5 linked regions of the Homo sapiens genome follow. The protein of the gene in region 2 interacts with the protein of the main gene of each other region in a pairwise test. Each region holds a gene or a part of one and is shown on either strand. Other genes may lie near its edges.

Region 1 (4,446 bases), on a different chromosome or scaffold from region 2:
CAATCTCTTGACCTTGTGATGCACCCGCCTTGGCCTCCCAAAGTGCTAGGATTACAGGCGTGAGCCACCACACCCAGCCTGAGGAATAACCTTTTAATGAAAAGTGGCTTAACTTTTGTCCAGGCTGTTGCTGCTCTCACAGAAGGTGTTGATTCTTGTAGCACACACAGTAGGTGGTGTGTGCTGTGTCACGTGGCTCTTAAGGAAGGCGACCTGGGGAGTTGGGTGTGCATGTGCGCGTGTGTAGTGTAGTGTGGTATGAGTGGATGCTCCTGGACCTGTGATGTTTCGGGCATAGCGTTTGCCCTTAGTTTCTGGTTGGAGAAGTCTGAGCCCTGAGCAGCTGCTGTGAGTGGCGTGACCTACCTGCAGGGACTGCAGGGCTTGCCCTCGGGTTACGCCCAGTCGTTACATGCTGCTGTTATACAACACCAGATTTGCAAGTCTGATGCCATGTGCCTGCTTATTGGGTTATGGCTTATTTTGCCCATGCTCCCCCAGGGAGCCCAGATTAATATTTTCTTCACTTCTAAATTTAAATATTCACTAGCTCCTCTGGGGTTCAGACTGCATTAGGTTCTGTGCTGAGCACCCATCCTGGAAGGTGGGATCACACAGGGCCGGCTTTGGGAGCAGTGGGAAGCCATCCGATGGCTTTGAGTTAGGAGAAATTTGGGTTAGAATTACATGGACAAGACACCTGTAATCCCAGCACTTTGGGAGGCCGAGGTGGGCAGATCACCTGAGGTCAGGAGTTCAAGACCAGCTTGGCCAACATAGCAAAACCGCGTCTCTACCAAAAATACAAAAATTAGCTGGGTGTGGTGGTGGGCATCTGTAATCTCAGCTACTCGGGAGGCTGAGGCTGGGAGAATCGCTTGAACCTGGGAGGCAGAGGTTGCAGTGAGCTGAGATCACGCCATTGCACTCCAGCCCAGGCGACAGAGCAATACTCTTTCAAAAAACAAAAAACAAAACAAAACAAAAAAAGGAATTACATGGACAGGTGAAACTGGAACTGAAATGCTGTGGAAAAGGCAGCTCTCACCATACTGGAAACTTGCACCCCAAGGGCTCCTCCAGCATCTCAAGGGTGCAGGCTGATGGGACGGTGCTTGTTTCCCAGCTGAACAAGCGCCCTGATGAAGGCGTGCGGGGTGATGGGATGGCCTTCGCCGTTCTCACCCGATGTCTCGTTGTTCAGTCTTCCCTGGGTTCTGCCTCCGCCTCGCCCTTCCAGCCGCACGTGCCTTACAGCCCTTTCCGAGGGATGGCGCCCTACGGCCCGCTGGCGGCCAGCTCCCTGCTCAGCCAGCAGTATGCCGCCTCCCTGGGTCTAGGTGAGTGACCTGTTTCTGTCTGGTAAACTACCCTTGCGTGTAACTGTCACTGAGTGGAGCGATGGAGCCTGAGGGTGGGGATATGCATTCCTGTCATGCTCAGCTTGTAGACTGTTTTGTTGCACACTTAGTAAATTACCCAGTGCAACTTCCGCTTGTGAGAGCATTTAGTAACTACTCAACTGAAAGTAAAAGAGGCAGCAGCCTGAGTGTTGGAACAGAAGAATCAAATCAAAATTCATTCGAAGAGTCAGGGCGGATCTAGGTGGAAGTCCTGGGCCAGGCATAGTGGCTCACTCCTGTAATCCCAGCACTTTAGGAGGCCAAGGCGGGTGGATCACAAGGTCAGGAGTTCGAGACCAGCCTGGCCAACATGGGGAAATCCTGTCTCTACTAGAAATACAAAAATTAGCTGGGTGTGGTGGGACACACCTGTAATCCCAGCTACTTGGGGGGTTGAGGCATGAGAATTGCTTAAACCTGGGAGGCAGAGGTTGCAGTGAACTGAGATTGCACCACTGCACTCTAGCCTGAGCGGCACAGTGAGACTCTGTCTCAAAAAATAAATAGGTGGAAGTCCTGGTATATCTGCTTCAAAGAAGAAATAGCTGATATATATGTAGTATTACAGATGAAGTCTAGCTGTTTGCACATTTATAAGCCTGTAAATATAGACGTGAAATACAAACCCACCCATCATGTCCCTTATTCTACTGTAAGTGCCTCGCTCAAAAATGGTTTCAACCAAGATTGAAAAACCCCAGAGTATGATTCTATTCTCCATATGTAGAGAAAGATCCTGCCTTGTCCTTAACCTGGACCTAGCTTTGCAGATGGGCTCAGAGTGTAGAATTGGCAGGTGATCCACGACCCTTGCTCAGAATCCAGCATGAAGTAGTGAGACAGGGAACCCTAAACGAGGTCTGTAGGCCACTTGCTGCTACAAATCATGCTTGCTTGGTTGCTATTCCTAGTGTGACAGGCGGCCTTCCCAGCCCAGCTCTCTGGGTTTCTAAAACGTGTTTGTATGACAGAATCCTACAAGAGGTTGCTTGGCTCTTTCCAAGCTTGCTAGACACAAGACAAGTGTATCCTGACTTATTTGTGTGCTTTCTTTTTGCTCTTTCTCCTTTATCTTCCTTTAGAGAAGTTGGTAAGCCCTCCAGCCTCAGCCGCTGCTTCCAGCCCTAGCTCTTCTCCATCTCCACAGCCCGTTTCAGAGCTTGACTTGTCCTCAGAGCCACAGCAGCTCACTGCCAAGGGTAACAGCAGTTTGGGAGAACTGCATGCTGTCTTGCAAACCATTCTGAGAGCGAGGGGTAAAGCAGCAGACAGAATGACAGTAGCTGTAGCAGATCATTTGCCAAGCCCATGCAGCCGCTGAGCTGCTTGTTTTGCTTCAGCATGTAGTCCTGATTGATGAACTCTCAGTGTTAAAGAAGGGATTACGAAGAATCAGCGGAGTAGTTTGTTCTCTCTCCCTGGGTCCAGGTTCTCTGTTGACCTGTACCATGACTACCACATACGGGAAACTTCACTGTTCACAGAAAGTCATTTCCCTGGGGTTTTTGCTGGGTCCTAAATGTGTTCCAGAGTGCTGCAGGGGGGACTCCCCAAAGCACCTGACATGCCTGTTTTGCTCTTTGATCCGTGTGGTTCATAGATCACTCATTGAGGGGATTCAAAATTAGGGGCTTGGGTGACAGTCGCCAACTGTTTGGCCAGGTGGACAGTATCAGCCTGATGGCCAGCTGGCCAGTGTACACCACCTGTCTCTGTGCTGTGGTGGTGGCGGCACCTGTGGGGTTTCTAGATCTTTTCTCACGTTCTACTCATTTCCCCTGAAGTTCTAAAATTCATATTGACGATCTTGCTGTATGTTTGTGTTACACATAGCACCCTGACAAGCTGAACCATCGCCATTACCCGGCCCTGGTCCAGGTTGATGCCTGGGCTTTCCTTATGGCACACAGCTGCTGTCAGTCTGTCATTCTGCAGGTGCTGCTTTCCAAATCCTGCATGCACTCTGTGTATCTGAGTTACAGAGTAGTCTTTTTTTTTCCCCCACTTAAAAATGACACAGATACTTCTATTGCTCTTAGGATCAGTTACCTAAACCTGCTCATAGGGCAAGACTTTGTTTGAACTAGTTGGTTGTGTAAAAAGCAGACAAGCCCCTTATCCATGCCCCTGCAGTCACAGTATGATCAGCAGGCAGGCAGTGCTGTGTTTGTCTCCCGGACATGCTGAGTGAGACAATCAGTGAGAAAGTGGCCCGGGTGCATTCCCGCCAGAGGACACTTTCCAGACCTCTATGCAGAGTCGTTCCAACCTGCCCTTTGAGAGCTTCTCTTGATCTGGTTACAAGGAATTTTTCTACAGTCAATTTTTTTTTTCATTTCTATTCCGTAAAAGCAGTAAGATGAGATGCCCAGTCTTCATGTGTATTGGGCTGTTCGTCTAATAATAATTACCCTGTGGTTAGGGTGCCTTTTCTGTTTCAGATCTCTGTTCACTTACACCCAGTCCCACATTGTCCTGTTTAGAGTCCCTACAGGTCCTGGAACCTTGGAAAGGGAGGAGATGGAGAGAGGTGGGTGGTGCTTCCCATTTTCCTCCTGATTCAGAGGGCCTGGTTTCTGAGGGTTCATCCCCTGTGCGTGGGCCTCGGACTGCAGTTTCATAGGCATAGCCCCTTGCCAAAGGCTACCTAGGAGCCCTTTGTGTCTTCATGATGAGCCTTTGCCCTTGAGAGAAGTGTAGGCTGCTACGTCTCGGAAGTCAGCTCCTGCTTCATCATTTTTAGTTTTATTGTGCCTTAAGTGGAAATGACAGTGTTGTAGAATTTAACTTCAGAATTTGTTCACTGCATTTTCTAGAAAATCCCAGGCTGGGCTGGTTCTTCTCCAGTGTGGACCAGAATGAAACAAATTCTCAGATCCTGAATTCATCAGGATCTTGGGGCTGCTGAGCTCCTTTGGGATTGGAGCTTGTGTGGTTTTAAGAAAGCTGTTTCCACACTTCTGGGGAGGTGCCTGTTTGTAGGCACGGTGTTTTTCCTGTCCTTGAGGTTCCCTAACTTGGGAAGCTCAGGGCTTTGGGAGTG
Region 2 (3,485 bases):
CGTTTTTCTATTGCTTCATGTCTTTTACATTTTAACTTGAGCTACAGTAAAACAACGTGGGGGAGTACTGGGATACTGTCAGCAATCTGCATTTGCCCTGGTGTTTTCCACACCCTGCATTCCATGTCTATTCTTAGCACTGTCCTTGGGCTGCTTGTCAGCTCACATTCAGTGCGGGGTAAAAGGCAGGCAGCCACTGCCTCTGAAGAAATACTTAATGTATACAGAATGAGATAGCAAACCTTTGGAATGTCCCAGAGCAGCTGTTGAAGGCACTAGTCCTTAACCTCTACCAATGTCTCCACCTTGAGCCAAGGCAGTAGTTTGGGAGAATATAATAAGCACCAATCATCAGATGTGCTGTGTAAACTCAGACACGCAGTGTAAGCTCAGGTGTTGAACTTCCATTGGCTGCCAGGCTATTTAAAGCTAAGGATTATGCAGAGATAGCAGATGTGTTACATTTTGCCATCTAAGTTTATGGAGCATCTAAAAAGCACAGATTAAAACTCACTGAATTCAGCAATCAAACTTTTAAAAGTGGTGTCCTTAAGCTTCATATTAATTTACAAGAGGATATGTAAATACATATCTCATGAACATTTTGTACGTGTCCATAGAACTTATACTATCTTTAAAAAGTCAAAACACTTCAGATAGGATTCAGTATATCTTTAAAAAGATGAATGAGGTACATATTTGAACTTTTTAAAAATAAGATTTATATCTGAAAATTCCCATTGACCTTTAAGGCAGTAACAACTATACTAAATCATAAATAGATATCAGACCCAATTTCCAAATACTGTATTTTAATTTTTGCACTCCATATTTATAAAACCTCATTTTAATTAAAATACATTAAAAAGAAAAGCTTATCGAGTGAAGGGAATCACAACTCTTTTTGGCAAAATAAAAGATTTTCATAAAATGGATAGGAATTCCTTAAATGGGTATAGCTCTTTTGCCATCAGTGATTACAAATGCAGCTGGCATTGTTGGAATAATAAGAAACAATTCGGAGTCCTCTCTAATATCCAAATACAGCCTTCTGTATTTTCAATGTTTCAGTTGTAAGAATAGTATCAGTTTGAGCCACACAAACATATTTACAAATTTTCCTTTCTGAGTAAGAATAATAAAGACAACCTCAACATACCAGGAACTGTGTATATATTTTTAATCTTCATAAAAATCATAGCAAATCATTTCAAATGTGGGTAATACAAACATTCTCGTAGTACCAGTGGCTGAACCATCATCTTCCCCATGTCATCTGAACAGGAACCGATACGATGTCACTTAGTCCCAACTGGATCCTTTACTTCCACCACCAAAATTCCATCATGACAGAGGACTGCAGACAAATCTTTGATTTCCACACCATCTGGTAGTTTGTACTGTCGGGTGAAGCTTCTTGAGATAAAACCGTGCTCATCCATTCTGGTTCCGTGTTGTGCTTTTATCAGCAGCCAGCCTTCGAAGGTCTGAATGATGATGTCTTCAGGGAGGAACTGGACCACGTCCAGCAGGATCTGAAAGTGGGATTTGCCTTCTCGGGGTGGCGTCTCTGCCGCTGAGTCCACTGGAGGAGACTGCGCTGCCCTGGTTTTCCTCAGGTCCACGATGGTTGGCCCAGGCAGTGCATATAAAGCATGATCCAGCCTGCAGTCTTCTAGACCTCGAGCTTCAAACTCTTCCTGGTAACGCACTGGAATCTCTATGAGGTGCCTCAAAATGATTTTTGCCATAGTGAAGGCAAAAACAGCCTTGAACAGCCTCCTTCTGCCAACCTTCCACTGCCTTCAGTCAGTGGCGAGCCCCTGCAGTTGCCTACTGACTGGATTACCAGTTGAAGCAGCTAGTGGTTTATAGCCGTGCCCAGACGCAATCACTTAATTAGGCCTGAATCATAGCACGGAATGCTCTCTTGTCTTTTCACACATGCTGACAATGAACGGCTATTTATAGGGCATGTTTCCCAGTGCATTTAGCACACAGCCTGCACAAGCTGCCCAGTCATGGATTGCCCTTACATTCTCAGTTATCCTTGGCAAATGTGTCTGCCTTGCTTACTTCAAGAAAGAGAGTGGGAATCGAAAATGGTATTTGAAAAATATCTGGGTGAGGCCAGGTGCGGTGGCTCATGCCTGTAATCCCAGCACTTCGGGAGGCTGAGGCGGGTGGATCGCCTGAGGTCAGGAGTTCAAGCCCAGCCTGAACAATGTGGTGAAACCCTGTCTGTACTAAAAACACAAAAATTAGCTGGGCATGGTGGCTTATGTCTGAAATCTTAGCTACTTGGGAGGTTGAGGTAGGAGAATCGCTTGAACCAGGAGGCAAAGGTTTCAGCGAGCCAAGACCATACCGTTGCACTCTAGCCTGGGCAATAGAGTGAGACTCCATCTCAACAAACAAACAAACAAACAAAAACCAAAAATATCTGGGTGGGTGCTTTCTCCCTGTGAACTTCAGTAATCTAAGGGAATAGGACTTCTTAGAACAGTCAGAGATGTTCACTCATAATATGAACTGGGATCACATTTTCCCTCGTCTCCAGATACAAAGCTGGGGAGGGCAGAATCTAGCTGTAATTCAGAAAGAATTAATACACACATATTCAAATCTCAGCCATTCAACAAACTGCCCTGTGTCCTATGCATTTCCTTTTATTTTATCTTTTAGTCTTTTGGGCTAAAAGACACATTATCTGGGTTTATTTACATCTGACTCATCAAAATTAGATCAGATGACTAAGCTAGAGAAGTGACAAACGTCAGATGGGGGCTGCAGGGGCATAGGATGGGGAATTTTAGTGATGAAAATAGAGCCACAAAGAAGAGAAAAATGTCAAAGCTTTGAATGATTTGATATGAACCTCCAAAAATCTAAGGATTAATCTTGTCACAGCTCTGCTACTGAGTTGGCAAAAATAAATTAAATATAATTTCCCCACTATATCACCCTTTATACTAAACTTACCCTGAAAAAGAATGAGGCAACTCCTTATCCACAGCTATGGAAGAATCTCCAAGATATGTTAAATCAAAAAGAAAAGTCCAGGGCAATATATGATATGCTAGTGTTTATACTTTTTTTTTTTTTGAGACAGAGTCTTGCTCTGTCACCCAAGCTGGAGTGGGTGACAGCCTCGAAGTCCTGGAATCAAGAAATCCCTCACTCTCAGCTTCCTGAGTAGCTGGGACTATAGAACCATGCCACCATGCCCAGTTAGTTTTTTTGATTGTTTTTTTAGAGATGGGGGTCTTGTTATGTTGCCCAGGCTGGTCTCTAACTCCTGGCCTGAAGAGATCCTTCCACCTCATCCTCCCAAAGTGCTGGAATTACAGACGTGAGCCACTGCACCAGGCCTTATTTATACTTTTTTAAAAAGTATGTATTTGCTTATATTAATAAAATCTCTCTGAAAGCTTTGTAGCTGAAGACAGTGGGTGCCTCCTGAGAGTGATTGGCAGGTGGGGGCT
Region 3 (5,230 bases), on a different chromosome or scaffold from region 2:
ATGGGCCAGAGAGGGTTAAGTTTCCAGAAGTCCTGACGGGCTTCAGCCAGGTTCAGGGCTGGAGTGGGTAGGTGAGGGTGATGAGAGTGGAGAAAAGGAAAGCAAGAATAGGCTGCAGACCGTGTAAGGCCAACATCTGGGACACGGTCACTGCCCCTCCTCCCTGCACAAACCGCAGACGCCGTGGCAGCAGGAAAATCAGAGCGGTCCAGACCAAGAATGATTGTGCAACCTGGCCCTGCAGGAGCACAACGCTGGAGGTGGGAGTGGAGGTCTGGGGTGCGGGGCAGAGTCCACTTTAGAGGGGAGACTTCAGTTCTTACTAAAAACACAGGCATTCAGGGCTCTGGTTTCCACACTAGAATGCAATGCAACTAACATGCATTTTGTAGTTCAAAATCCTCTGAGAATCGGAACTGGAATCTCTGCCCTGGGCCCCAGTGTCTCACAGCCAGAGGCACGGTGCCACTGAGGTTCTAGGATGGCTGCTGTGGATTGGCTGCTGTGGATGGCGGTGGGTGTGGAAGGAGGCCTTTCGTCCAGCCTCCTAAAGTGGCGGGATTCTGCCACCTCCCCCAGGCGCCTCACAGTAAACTCTTCCTCAGCAAAGGGAGCCCCGCCCAAGTCTTTAATATGGCTCAAGGAGTGGGGATGGGTTGGGAGGGAGAAACTGGATGGTCAGGGGGAAGTTTGATCTGAGGGCTACCCCAAACAAACACAGGAGAGGAGCAGTGGATTTTCCTTTTAATGCAAAATGTTGCAATACAAAACAATGTGGAGAAAGTCCTGTTCCTCAGGACACTGAAGGGAGGAGTGAGGAAGAGAGGACAGAGCTGGACGTCTCCTCCTATTTCTCCCTCCCCAAGTCACTCTGAGGGGAAGAACACTGCTGCCTGCTCCCTGGGCCTGCCCGCATACAAGGTTAGAGCCCTGGGTCTGGGGCATCCTTAGCCTGAAATTTGTTGACATGGGGCAGGAGAGCAGGAGGGAACATTGAGGGTTTTGACTCTTCGGGCTCTAAAAGGATTACTCAGGATCTGGAGTTCCGTATGAAACAAAGGAGCTGAAAGAATTTGATTGCCATTGGCTAAAAATATAGAGGATTTGAGCCACAACTGGCCCACATTTGAAGAATGAGGAACAAGAAATTTAGTGGGGATATAATATAAATGTATGGGAGTGAGAAAGATGCAAAAAACAAGGCTAGCTCCTCAAACCTCCTCCTCTTTCTTCCTCATCTCCAGCTTATAGACAATCTGGTAGCCATCATCCCAGGCATAGAGCTGGCGTTCTCGGGGGTTATAGCGGAGGCTGGCATGGGCACCATATCTGCGGGGAAAATAAGGGAGTGCTGCCCGTTCAGGGGTCAGGGTGCCGCTGGCATCAAAGGAGCACTGGATGCGGGCCCGACTGGCAGGACGGGTGTTATAGACGACATAGAGGGTCCCACAGATGACAAAGGCAGCCTCAGCATTCTCTCTGGGACATGGTGTGTCCCACTGCTGCTCTGTGTCCAGTGTCTGTGGATCTAACTTGGCCAGACACAAGTGCCTGTCATCCTCCCGGGTGGCATAGACAGCCCAAAGACCTTCCTCATCAGCTGCCAGGTCGATGTAGGTGTCTGCTGTCAAGCCGTAGGGGGGGATCAGCCCCTCTGCTGGGAATACTGAGCTGTCCACCACTGTTCGGTTTGCCAGGTGGAATTTGATTAGCTGCAAAGTGTTCTCCATCTCACCACCTCCACCAGGTCTTCCAGGAGGCCTCCGAGCAAAATAAAGAAAGCCACCATATACCAGCTGCCCTGTGCCTACCCAGGGGAAGGGCACCCGGACTCGGGAAGCTTTCCGGGCAGCCATGGCAAGGGTGAAGTCACGCAGCCTTGGGAAGACAAAGGCTGTGTCATTCTGTGTCCCATCTAACACGTAGATCTTCTCTGTTTGCCCCAGTGGATCCTTGGTCCATAGACCAGCTGGGCCACCAAATCGCTTCAGAATCTTCATTGATCTCACTTGAGAGATTGTGTAGCCACAGTCTGATGAGAAAAGCACAGGAAAAGGAAATAGAGGCAAGAATTAGATGCCTCCAGCAGGAACTCCCCCAGGGTGGGTGATCTGGAGAATAGTGAGCATTTGCCCAGTGGTTGCCTCCAATCTTAGGGAGAATTGAGAAAGAGCGGGTACCACAGCGGCCTGGATCCCCAGAACCTCTCCTTAATAGACCTGGCATTACAGAGGTTTCCCTAAAACAGATTCCAGAAGACAGAGCCACAATGGACTGGGACAAAGCGAAAAAAAGAGTAAGAAGCAAGGAAGGAAGAATATCGGTTCTGAGAAGAGTTAGGGGCCTGCTTTCAGATTATTTACCTGTCACCATATCGTACTTCTCATTCCTTCTTCCCTTGCCTTTGGTCCCAGGGCCTCCAGTCACCTTCTCATCAAACTCTACACAGGGCAGAGCTGGGTTCTGGGTCTCCAGATAGTCTACCTCCCGCTCCAGACGATCCACTCTCCCGGAGATGGTGTCGGCCTCAGTTCTGAGTGCCTCCCGCTCCTTCTCTGCCACCTCCAGCAGTGGCAGCATCTTGTTCTTGAAGTCCCGCAGCTCAGCAGCATGCCGACTACTCTGGTCCTGGCACTGGGCCAGCCGTTCCTGAAGGGATGGGGGATCAGGAGGGAGGCTGCAGGGTTACAACTCCCAGGCAGGGAGAGGCCCAACTCGGGAGTCAGGAATGGGAAAAAAAGAGCAAACTCAGCCAGGCTTCAATATCCCCTTCCACTCCTGCAGAAAAGGAAACCAGATGTGCAGAGGTGCTAAATGTGCAAAGAGCCTAGCTGAGATTCACCTAGGCCCCTACCCCGACTCCATGTCCTCCAGCCTGTGTTCTCTGTGAGCAGTGCCACTGAGCCATCTGAGCCTCTAGGCAGGTCTAAGCGCATGAAGGTGTGAAGAGGTCTCTGCTCCCTTAGCAATTATCCTCTCGGACACTAAAATGCTACGGATCTCAACCTGTTAAAAAGACAGGAAGTTATAGATTCCCCGGGAACCTCCAACTTCAACAGAATCATCACCTTCTCTGGAGATGCAGCCCCACAATTTTGGCTCTCGTTTCCACTCTGCCCCCTTATTCTATCTAATCCCAGAGGTAAAACGCAAAAGTCGATTTGCTTTGGAATTGTTCTATGTGGGGTAAGAGGAGGGCTTGTCATTCCGAAGGTCCTCTTATTAAGAGAGAATTTTCTGTAGACTCTAACAGAGCCCTTTCTTGTTATCCCCAGATCCCTAACAAACTGGTTGAACCAATAGCCCTGGAATCCTTCTAGGCGGGGCTAGAAGAGAAAGGGGTCCCTCACCTCTAAAGCAGCTAGTCGGCGTTCCATGTACTCCACAAGGTGGTGCTGCTGTCCTTGGAGGGGTCCCGACCATGACAAAAGGAACAAGATGAGGAGAGGGGTGCTGGGCCCCATGGCAGCCTGGAGAGTGGTGCCAGAGTAGAAGGAACGTACAGTCAGCCTCTTCCCCTCAAGCCCGAGGGTTAGCTTTGGAGGCGGGGTGGGGGCGGTGCCTTCTCTCCTGATCTCTGGGTCTCTCTCACTACTCTGGAATGCTTTCAGTTCTCTTTACAACCCCCACCCCCTCCTTTCCGCCAGGATTGATCAAACACAGATGGCCCCATTGCACAGCAGCCAGAAGCCTTAACCACCTCCCGCCTAGGCTGTAGGGTCCTCTGGAGGGGAAAGAGATGGAAACCCGAAAGCAGAGGCCTTCTAGGCAGTCAAGCAGGGAAGCTAGCTGCAGAAAGCAGAGACCCCAGAGAAAACTCAGCAAACGCCATTCCTGTTTTAGGAAAGTTTCACCAGTGCTGACTTAAGAAACTGACATTTTTCATTAATCTTTCCCTTTCCCTGCAATAGAGTGGGTTTTCAGCCTTGTTCAGTAGAAGCTGGGAGCTGGGGAGGTGAGGCTTGAAGGGAGGAAGCAGGAAAACAATGGCCCAAGTGGTCAAGCCCAACTTATTCTAAAGCTCATTGGCGCCACCTTGTGCTAAGCAGCTGGTGTCATCTCTCATGATAATACAGAAACTAAGGCTTAGACTTCACCCCATGAGGAAAATTTTCCACAAAAGCCAAATATATTGAATTTACAGGGGTTTTCACCACTGAAATGCATATTTCCCCCAAGACTATCCAATTACTACTTTGGGGGCTATGCAAATATCTGATTTAGCCCAAGGAAGAAAATATAACTGAGATTAAAAAAAAAAAAAAAACAGGTCACTGAGAAGTTAGTAAATTAACTCGATCGTCTGGAAGTTAAGGCTGACAGCAGCGCTGTTTTACATGGCTTTCCTTTGCTTGAAAGAGGCCAGATATAGTCTCTCACCAAAACTGAGGAGTGTTCAGTGAGTTCACACTAATTTACTATACATTCATGTATTGCGGGGGGGCGGAATCTGATATATATATATATGTTGTTGCAGTCTAGATCAATGTATTCTGACTTCCTTACCACTGGGAGAAAAGACTATTGGTTATTTCTCTTGGTTGTGGTCCAAAAGGGTATTTCTGAGTGTTTCTCATTTCTATATCCCAACTAAGGCTGCAGGAGCCCAAAATGAATTAATGGCCACCATAAGGTAGACTTGGGCCATAAGGTAGACACACGGGCCGAAAAAAAAAATCAAATAGAGCATTTACTCAGAGACCTGCAGTCATTAATCGAAACAAACCCCTATTTCTTTATCGGGAGAAATTCTATTCACTTTAGAATCAACAGAATCTGATGAGAGGTTCCTTCTGTAAAAAGGACCATGACTCTAACAGTACAGTTTGAAAGGAGGGGAAAAATAGCAGCTTCCTGTGGTTACTCATCTTTTCATTCTGCTACTGCTATCTGGCAAAACATATGAGGAAACAAAGCTTAATTAGCCGGTCTCAGAAGTCTTCTACCTCTTTCAAAGGGTCAGATCCAGATGATGTGAAGTAAGGACCCTGGACACTGCATTCTTGGGAAGTATTCCCTGCCAAACCCTATTCATTTCCAGTATGGAGATTTGTGTGAAGAATGAAATTGTCTCTAGTACTCTACTGATGTTCAAATACAATATGCTTAGCCACTTTCAAAGATGTCATTTATTGATCCCCTTTATATCCTATAACAGAAGTCAAAAACAGCCACATAAGTCAGAAAATTTACCCATTTTATTGATGCATTGCAATTGCTCTACATTTTA
Region 4 (4,446 bases), on a different chromosome or scaffold from region 2:
TGAATGCTTTCTTTATGCCACTTACTGTTTGAAGTTCTTTATGTATAATAACTCATTGAATCCTCATTTCAAGCCAAAGAAAAAATCTACTGTAATTACCCCAAAAAACAGAAGTAGAAAGAGGCTAGGAAATACTAGCATACGGATGATTTATCTTAGGTTCTTGTAGGAATAAGACCATTTAAAAATTATTCTTATTTATTTTTATGAAGTTCTTTGTGTGCTGATATATATATTAAACTCAATACATTTTAAAAAATATATTCATTCATGTGTTTGAAAATTTTTTGGCTGAAAGTATTTTTATATAACTTGAAATGTGAAACACTAATACTTAATGAATACCCAGTCCAGGGGTGCATTTTCTACCATGAGGAACATGGTTCCTCTGCTTAAAGATGGTGGTGTGCCCATGTCACACCAACTATTGAAGTGATCACTCCTATAGACATCTGTGCCAAGAAACATTAATTACATTTCAGACTGCTGTTTTGAGCTTTCTATCTGTTTTTTTCTTTTTCTTCTTCTACCTAGGTTTGAATGAGAGAGGCAGAAGCACATTTCCAATCACTGGGGGAACCTGAGACCATTCTTTCCAACCCATTTTGCCAAATGGATGTCCTGAGGAAGGTGTTCCAAGAGAGGCGATGTCAGGATAGTGTCTGATTGGAGGGTGCCCAAGGCACATGGGAGAATGTGGAAGAACTGGAAAGACTTGGGTGTTGCTGATGTTAAATTACTTAGGTATCTCTGTAGAAACTTAGTGGGTCATTCCTTCTCTTCACAATCCCTTTCTTAAATTTATGATAAACGTGAAAGGTAATCAAAACAAAAGCAGGGCAAAATGGGAAAATAAGTTCCCACTTTAACTTTTTCTGGATTATTTAAAGGTCTACTGGGGCAAATGTGATGAAAATTAAAAAAAAAATTGCAGATCATCAGTGTTTAAAAGCAAATGCTTTCTGAAAATTATAGCTTGTATGTTAACATGATTTGTTGAAATCTGTTTTTGTAATTTAACCAACTTGACTTGTTAGAATTGAGCTCAGTTGAAGCACCATAGCAATTTAGTTAGATGATAAGCTACTCTGTTTCTCTGAAGAAAAGAAAAATTTAGATATAGCTCCTATATATAGCTCCTAGCTATATAGGATGAATTTTTATCAGTGGGATGTCTTTGACAAATTAAAGAACACCTATAAAACAAAAATTCTTATTTTACACTTATTTTTCTTCTTACAATTGTAATTTAGTTTATGAAATATCAGATTGGTTTTGGTGGGAAACAGTAGTTTCACCTGTTCTGAAAAACAGCCTTTGGATTTTTGGCATATTCTTATCTGATGGGATAGGTTTCTTTTACTTCATATTAATACATGTGTGTAGTGTGTGTGTGTGTGTGTGTGTCTGTGGTGTGTTTCCCTCCTAATTTATTCACCTACCATATTTTTTCTCTTCAGAGTAATAGAAGTTTGTCTGGGACTTCTGTTGGGCACAAGTAAATTGCTTGTTTTTGAAATTACTTCAGTGATGGGTGTGGGTTTTCTCCTTTTTTTTCTTTTTCTTAATATTACAAATTCAAGTTTGTCTCCTGATTCTTCAGCACTGTTTGGAAAATCAAGAAAGTAGCTCTGAAATTTATTTTATGCATTGATCTTGGAAATAAAAGTAACTTAGAGCTAGAGCTTTTAGAGCCAGAAAGAAACAGCCTGTGCTATTGTTGGGTCACAGGGCCCTCATCAGACATGCAGGGAAAATGGAAGCTCAGAAATGTTGGGTGTGATTTGTCCAGGCTCACACTGCTCATTAGTGAGAAAGGTTGCCCCAAACCTGGATTTGCCAGCTAAGTTTATATGTATTAAGTGATACTCTTCAAGTTCTCATAAAAGAAATTGCAAAAGTTCTTCAAACATTACTTACAACTAATTTCAATCATAGGCTTTGGAGGGAATTCACAGGAAGCAGATGCAGAAACTTTATAGTTATTATACATAAAATTAAAATTGTAGTAGATTAATATGTACCTGAGAAGGCTGATTTATCTACTAAATTACTTATCCCTCAGAATAAAAGGCTGTTATTTCTTGAGTGTTTTTAGTAAATGGAAAACAAGACCAGCATAGACCTATGTTAGCAAACGTCAGTATCTGTTAATTTTCATCTCTTTCTCAGGAGAAGTATGATGCTTCGATAAAATTCAACAGCCCTTCATGCTAAAAACTCTCAATAAACTAGGTATTGAAGGAATATATATCAAAATAATAAGAGTTACTTATGACAAACCCACAGCCAATATCATACTGAATGGGCAAAAACTGGAAACATTCTCTTTGAAAACTGGCACAAGACAAGGATGCCCTCTGACACAACTACTATTCAACATAGTATTGGAAGTTCTGGCCAGGGTGATCAGTCAAGAGAAAGAAATAAAGCGTATTCAATTAGGAAAAGAAGAAGTCAAATTGTCTTTGTTTGCAGATGACATGAATTGTACATTTAGAAAACCCCATCTTCTCAGCCCAAAATCTCCTTAAGCTGATAAGCAACTTCAGCAAAGTCTCGGGATACAAAATCAATGTGCAAAAATCACAAGCATTCCTATACACCAATAACAGACAAACAGAGAGCCAAATCATGAGTGAACTCCCATTCACAATTGCTTCAAAGAGAATAAAATATCTAGGAATCCAAGTTAGAAGGGATGTGAAGGACCTTTTCAAGGAGAACTACAAACCATTGCTCAAGGAAATAAGAGAGGACACAAACAATGGAAAAACATTCCATGCTTATAGATAGGAAGAATCAATATCGTGAAAATGGCCATACTGCCCAAGGTAATTTATAGATTCAATGCTATCCCCATCAAGCTATAATTGACTTTCTTCACAGAATTGGAAAAAACTACTTTAAAGTTCATGTGGAACCAAAAAAGAGCCCACATAGCCAAGACAATCCTAAGCAAAAAGACAAAGCTGGAGGCATCATGCTACCTGACTTCAGACTATACTACAAGGCCACAGTAACCAAAACAGCATGGTACTGGTGCAAAAACAGATAGACCAATGGAACAAAACAGAGGCCTCAGAAATAATGCCATACATCTATAACCATCTGATCTTTGACAAACCTGACAAAAACAAGCAATGGGGAAAGGATTTCCTATTTAATAAATGGTGTTGGGAAAACTGGCTAGCCATATGTAGAAAGCTGAAACTGGATCCATTCCTTACACCTTATCCAAAAATTAACTAAAGATGGATTAAAGACTTAAACGCAAGACCTAAAACCATAAAAACCCTAGAAGAAAACCTAGGCAATATCATTCAGGACATAAGCATGGGCAAAGACTTCATGACTAAAACACCAAAAGCAAGGGCAACAAAAGCCCAAATTGACAAACTGGATCTAATTAAACTAAAGAGCTTCTGCACAGCAGAACTATCATCAGAGTGAATAGACAACCTACCGAATGGGAGAAAATTTTTGCAATCTATCCATCTGACAAAGGTCTAATATCCAGAATCTACAAAGAACTTCAACAAATTTACAAGAAAAAAAAACCCATCAAAAATGGGCAAAAGATATGAACAGACACTTCTCAAAAGAAGACATTTATGCAGCCAACAAACATATGAAGAAAAGCTCATCGTCACTAGTCATTAGACAAATGCAAATCAAAACCACAATGAGATACCATCTCATGTCAGTTAGAATGGTGATCATTAAAAAGTCAGGAAACAACAGATGCTAGAGAGGATGTGGAGAAATAGGAACACTTTTACACTGTTGGTGGGAATATAAAGTAGTTCAAACATTGTGGAAGACAGTGTGGCAATTCCTCAAGGATCTAGAACCAGGAATACCATTTGACCCAGCAATCCCATTACTGCGTATACACCCAAAGGATTATAAATCATTCTACTATAAAGACACGTGCACATGTATGTTTATTACAGCACTGTTCACAATGGCAAAGACTTGGAACCAACTCAAATGCTCATCAATGATAGACTGGATAAAGAAAATGTGGCATATATACACCATGGAATACTATGCAGCCATAAAAAAGGATGAGTTCATGTCCTCCGCAGGGACATGGAGGAAGCTGGAAGCCATCATTCTCAGCAAACTATCACAAGAACAGAAGACCAAATACTGCATGTTCTCACTCATAAGTGGGACTTGAACAATGAGAACACATGGACACAGGGAGGGGAACATCACATACCAGGGCCTGTGGCGGGGTAGGGGGCTAGGGGAGGGATACCATTAGGAGAAATGCTAGGGCAATTAGTCAAGAGAAAGAAATAAAGGGTATTCAATGTAGATGACGCGTTGATAGGTGCAGCAAACCACCATGGCATGTGTATACCTGCACATTCTGCACGTGTACCCCAAACCTGCACATTCTGCACATGTACCCCAAACGTGCACATTCTGCACATG
Region 5 (4,446 bases), on a different chromosome or scaffold from region 2:
ATGTGATAATCAGACCTTGAATAATCAAGAGCAGTCTTCTAAAGTCGAGGATTTTCCACAACTGTTTTGCTACTCTTGCCCGACATGATCAAGACTCCTGTCACAACTACCTTCATTCCACCTGAGGAGGATGAACTTGCTATGGTTCCCTTCCTCATGAATGAACTCGTGCAGCTGCTGAAGTGTGATGGAAAACAGTGCTTAGACATTAAGTATGCGGTTTCCACCACATATGATGGCCCAGGTCAAAGAACATTAAGAAACTTACTGATTTCAGGAGCACGATAAAATCTACTGACAAGATAAGGTGTTATGTCATTATCCGCAACATGTGAAGCCGACCCAAAATCGCAAAGCTTTAAAATAGTTTTGGATTCATTAACCTGCAAAACATTTTTTCAAGGGAATTTAATTCAAGCCAGGAATAATTAATACAAATAAATAAAAATTATTGGCTTTGAAAAGTTTTATTAATTCCAATACTGAGAACAAAGACATTCATTTAAAAATTCCTTTTCTATTTATTTTTAATTCAATTTCCTAACTATGAAAAGTTAATATGTATCAAATATTCATTACAATGAGTAAAAACTGTTTTCAGTGAGGAAATGGATATCACAAAGTACATTTAATTTTAACAACTGCATTTTTAAAAGGGTGGGGTACTGAGAGAAAAATCTAATTTCATGAAGCAAAGCATCTTCTAAAAAGACCCTGAATACCTGAATAAAGTCAAGTTTTATAACTAAGGAATCAGACTTAACTTTCAGTTGCCAGAGAATTACAATGGCAATGAAAGCAGAAGGGTGATTCAGAATAAACTTGGACAAAAACAAAATATTCTTCATCCGAAGCTGCTATATGATCCCAAATTTAGCAATCACTTCAAGTCTAAAAAATATTAAATCCCTCAAATATAAAGAAGGTATTAGTCAAGAAAATGTTAAATATATCTGGCAAAACTGATAAACATGAACTCTATATTAGTCATTTGTTTCTTTTTTCCTTTGTAAATACTTCAACATACACAGTAATAGTGACATCTGCTGAGAAAGGCTGGAGTTGCTCCCATGACTGCTGCCACTCATGAGTCAGAGGCATGTTCAGGATTAACAAGTGAAGATAATTCATATTCCAGAGTCCCTTCCCCCCTTCAAAAGAGACACACACAAATTCCGAGTTGGGACTTGAACTTGGCCTACTGCTCCCACCCCAAAGCAGCATAACACTATAGCCTTAGGCAGTCTCTATGGGGAGACTGGACTATTATAAATGATATCCAGAGTTAAGCTATTAATAGGAACAGAAATGATTATTTTTAACTCCCACATTGATTACTATTCTTTTCATCTTGGGAATCAGAAAAGCATCTTAAAATAGAAAAGTTATTTTAAAACTTTTTAAAGTGTAAGCTGAATTCAGCTACTTAAGCAGTTTCAATACCCACAGAAAACTTAAGAACCATTTTAAAATTAGAATCCATCAGTGGAACTCTTGGGCTGGCTAAAATGCCTTAAAGAATAGCAGGGTATCCATACTCATATGCACTTCAGTTTGCTACACAACTTCTGCTCCTGTCATGAGGAATGTGGTACTTAAACCACACTGATACCTGAAATTACGAGCTAAAGGCTTTGGATTTTCATTAACAAAAATCAGCTCCGTCATTAAGGTCTATTTTTTCCTTCCCCAGGAAGACGGGAAAACATTTCTTAAATGTATGTGAAAACCTATACTAGTTTAGCATTAGGTTTTAAAAACAAGAGTTTCTTCTGTGACACTGGCAAATGTGTTATTCTTTAACCTCCACAATGGTCACAAAGACGCTCACTGTAAATGACCTTTTAAATTGTACATGTTTTGCATATTCTTTGACATGAACCATGTATTTCACAATTAAAAAACAAAAAATTGGCTCACGCTTATAATCCCAGCACTTTGGGAGGACGAGGCGGGCAGATCACGAGGTTAGGAGATTAAGACCATCCTGGCCAACATGGTGAAACCCCGTCTCTACTAAAATACAAAAATTAGCTGGGCGTGGTGGCCCCTGCCTGTAATCCCAGTTACTCGGGAGGCTGAGGCAGGAGAAATGCTTGAACCAGGGAGTTGGAGGTTGCAGTGAGCCGAGATCACGCCATTGCACTCCAGCCTGGTAACAGGGCAAGGCTGTGTCTCATAAAAAAAACTGAGGTAAAAATCAACTATGAAATTGGCCACACAAATTTATACTTCATTTTTAATGTACCTACCATTTCAATGAAATTACTCAGCTCCCCTAACTCCAAGTTACATTAGATATACAATACAATAATAATTCAGACCAAACATAAAAATGGAATACACCTCATTACTAATGTGGTTGTCTGGAAGGAAATAAAGGAAATATTTTAAGATATTAACAAAAAAGAAAAAGAAATATGAATTAAATAGCTTAGTTATTGATTAAAAAAAAACTCCTTAAACTTTAATGAGATCACCATTTTTTAAAGAATTTATCTTGGCCAAGCATGGTAGCTCACACCTATAATCCCAGCACTTTGGGAGGCTGCAGCAGGAGGATTGCTTGAGCCCAGGAGTTTGAGACCAGCCAAACCTCATCTCTAAAAAAAATTTTTTTTAATTAGGCAGTCACAGTGGCATGTGCCTGTGGGTAGTCCCAGCTACTGGGGAGGCGGAGGCAGGAGAACTGCTTGGGCTTAGGAGTTGGAGGTTACAGTGAGCCATTATGGCACCACTGCACTCTAGCCTGGGTGACAGAACAAGACCTTACCTCAAAACAAAACAAAACAAAACAAAAAAAACAAAAGAAAAAATCAAAAGTATTTATTTTGTTATAGCTCCAAGAGTTCCCAATAAAGAACACCTTACACGCTTAGCTTTTAGTCTTCAGGATCTCTCCTAGGCATCAACTGTAGGAGAACTGATAAAGAGAACCCATTTTAAAAAAATGAAATGCAGAATGTTACCAGCATATAAGCTGGAATTCTCCAAGTTGCGAACACGACCCAAACTGAAGGCCACAAAACAGGGTAAAGTAATGGGGCCAGGGAGGGGAGGAGTGTGTGTGTGCATTAATCACATCACTATGATAATATGTATGTATTTCAAAATTTTAAAAACATATACATTGTGAAATCTGCTGTTACCACCAGAAGTCACTAGTCGAAGAGAATTAAGGTTTCAAAAGGTGAGAACACATGGACACACAGGGGAACAATACACACTGGGGTCCGTCAGAGGCTGGAGGGTGAGAGATGGGAGAGGATCAGGAAAAGTGGGTACAAACCCTCCATGACACAAGTTTACCTATGTAACAAGCCTGCACATGTACCCCTGAACTTGAAAGTTTAAAAATAAAATAAAATAAACTTCAAAAGCGATGCCTTTAAATATAATACCTAACCACAACTGAGCTTTATTGTGTTTGAGCCCCCAGGAGCCACAGCTTAGGGAGCTATAAAATTAGCAAACAGAAGAGTACGGACACTCCTTATTTCAAAACAGCAACATGTGCAGCATTTTTCTAAAGATAACAGAAGAAACTCATTACTACAGTAAAGCATTCCAGGATTGGTGCACACTTTAAATCTATCAGTCAAAAGAGAAAAAAAGGGACAATTGTACATTTCCTTTTTCTTCATACTTGTCAATAAAATTTCACTGTCCGATTTCCAAGAAAGATAAAAAAGTATTAGTCATTTGAAATAGGTTATTAATATACTGAACTATGCTTCTAAGATGTCGTTTCTCATAGTAATAATATTACTGCTAGTAAGAAGTGAAATGTATGTTCAAGATGTACAGCGCAGCTTGGCTGTTTGACTTACCAGGATATTGTCTGGCTTGATATCTGCATGTAGGATATTGCATCTTTTAAGGAGTTTCAATGCCAGGAACAACTGCTGACTATAGGATCTTACAGCTTTAATATGAAGACCAACATCTTTACCATATTTTTTTAACACCTCTCGTAAGTTCATGCTTTTAGGAGAAAATTAAAAAAAGAAAACAAAATAGGAGTTAAAATGCAAAATGGAAATATAAAAAGGCAAAAACATTTGCAAGCATAAAGTAAAATCAAGCGCAAAATAAAAATATGTAAGAACCACCCCCACATTTGATAAATCATTTTATATTGAAAGGAGAGCATATCAAATTGTATGTATATAACACAGTTTCTGAATAAATTCAAATTTTCTAAATAGGTAAGAAGAAAGATATGCAAGGTAAAACTCCCATTTCGATTTTAGAATAGATTCACATCTGAAAACACAACAAAGCCACACTGTTGAAGATAAAAATTCCTTCCTTGAAGTATTTCATTTTAAGAGAGACTCTCTGTTGAACCCGGGAGGTGGAGGTTGCAGCGAGCCAAGACTGCACCACTGTACTCCGGGAGGAGCAACAGAGTGAGACTGTCTCAACAACAACAACAACAACAAC

What was found.
Region 1: the proteins of HSPB3 (region 2) and LSM14B interact in a two-hybrid assay, tested with the Homo sapiens proteins (one large-scale study listed by IntAct).
Region 3: the proteins of HSPB3 (region 2) and OLFML3 interact in a two-hybrid assay, tested with the Homo sapiens proteins (one large-scale study listed by BioGRID and IntAct).
Region 4: the proteins of HSPB3 (region 2) and BBOX1 interact in a two-hybrid assay, tested with the Homo sapiens proteins (one large-scale study listed by BioGRID and IntAct).
Region 5: the proteins of HSPB3 (region 2) and PRP4K interact in a two-hybrid assay, tested with the Homo sapiens proteins (one large-scale study listed by BioGRID and IntAct).

What each region holds. Positions count from the first base shown.
Region 1 is NC_000020.11:62,125,100-62,129,545, forward strand, and holds part of LSM14B (protein LSM14 homolog B), read left to right. Parts: intron 1-1,126; coding exon of another isoform or gene 1,127-1,204; coding exon 1,205-1,340; intron 1,341-2,485; coding exon of another isoform or gene 2,486-2,602; intron 2,603-3,825; coding exon of another isoform or gene 3,826-3,933; intron 3,934-4,446. UniProt on the Homo sapiens protein: mRNA-binding protein essential for female fertility, oocyte meiotic maturation and the assembly of MARDO (mitochondria-associated ribonucleoprotein domain), a membraneless compartment that stores maternal mRNAs in oocytes.
Region 2 is NC_000005.10:54,454,056-54,457,540, reverse strand, and holds HSPB3 (heat shock protein beta-3), read right to left. Parts: upstream 1,843-3,485; 5' UTR 1,752-1,842; coding exon 1,299-1,751; 3' UTR 1,164-1,298; downstream 1-1,163. UniProt on the Homo sapiens protein: Inhibitor of actin polymerization.
Region 3 is NC_000001.11:113,977,751-113,982,980, reverse strand, and holds OLFML3 (olfactomedin-like protein 3 isoform 1 precursor), read right to left. Parts: upstream 3,508-5,230; 5' UTR 3,465-3,507; coding exon 3,351-3,464; intron 3,258-3,350; exon of another isoform or gene 2,909-3,257; coding exon of another isoform or gene 2,855-2,908; intron 2,779-2,854; exon of another isoform or gene 2,650-2,778; coding exon 2,364-2,649; intron 2,033-2,363; coding exon 1,212-2,032; 3' UTR 728-1,211; downstream 1-727. UniProt on the Homo sapiens protein: Secreted scaffold protein that plays an essential role in dorsoventral patterning during early development. Stabilizes axial formation by restricting chordin (CHRD) activity on the dorsal side.
Region 4 is NC_000011.10:27,043,401-27,047,846, reverse strand, and holds part of BBOX1 (gamma-butyrobetaine dioxygenase), read right to left. Parts: intron 1,606-4,446; exon of another isoform or gene 1,443-1,605; intron 662-1,442; exon of another isoform or gene 535-661; intron 1-534. UniProt on the Homo sapiens protein: Catalyzes the formation of L-carnitine from gamma-butyrobetaine.
Region 5 is NC_000006.12:4,052,258-4,056,703, reverse strand, and holds part of PRP4K (serine/threonine-protein kinase PRP4 homolog), read right to left. Parts: intron 3,985-4,446; coding exon 3,831-3,984; intron 1,152-3,830; coding exon of another isoform or gene 1,128-1,151; exon of another isoform or gene 452-1,127; intron 384-451; coding exon 269-383; intron 178-268; exon of another isoform or gene 16-177; intron 1-15. UniProt on the Homo sapiens protein: Serine/threonine kinase involved in spliceosomal assembly as well as mitosis and signaling regulation. Connects chromatin mediated regulation of transcription and pre-mRNA splicing.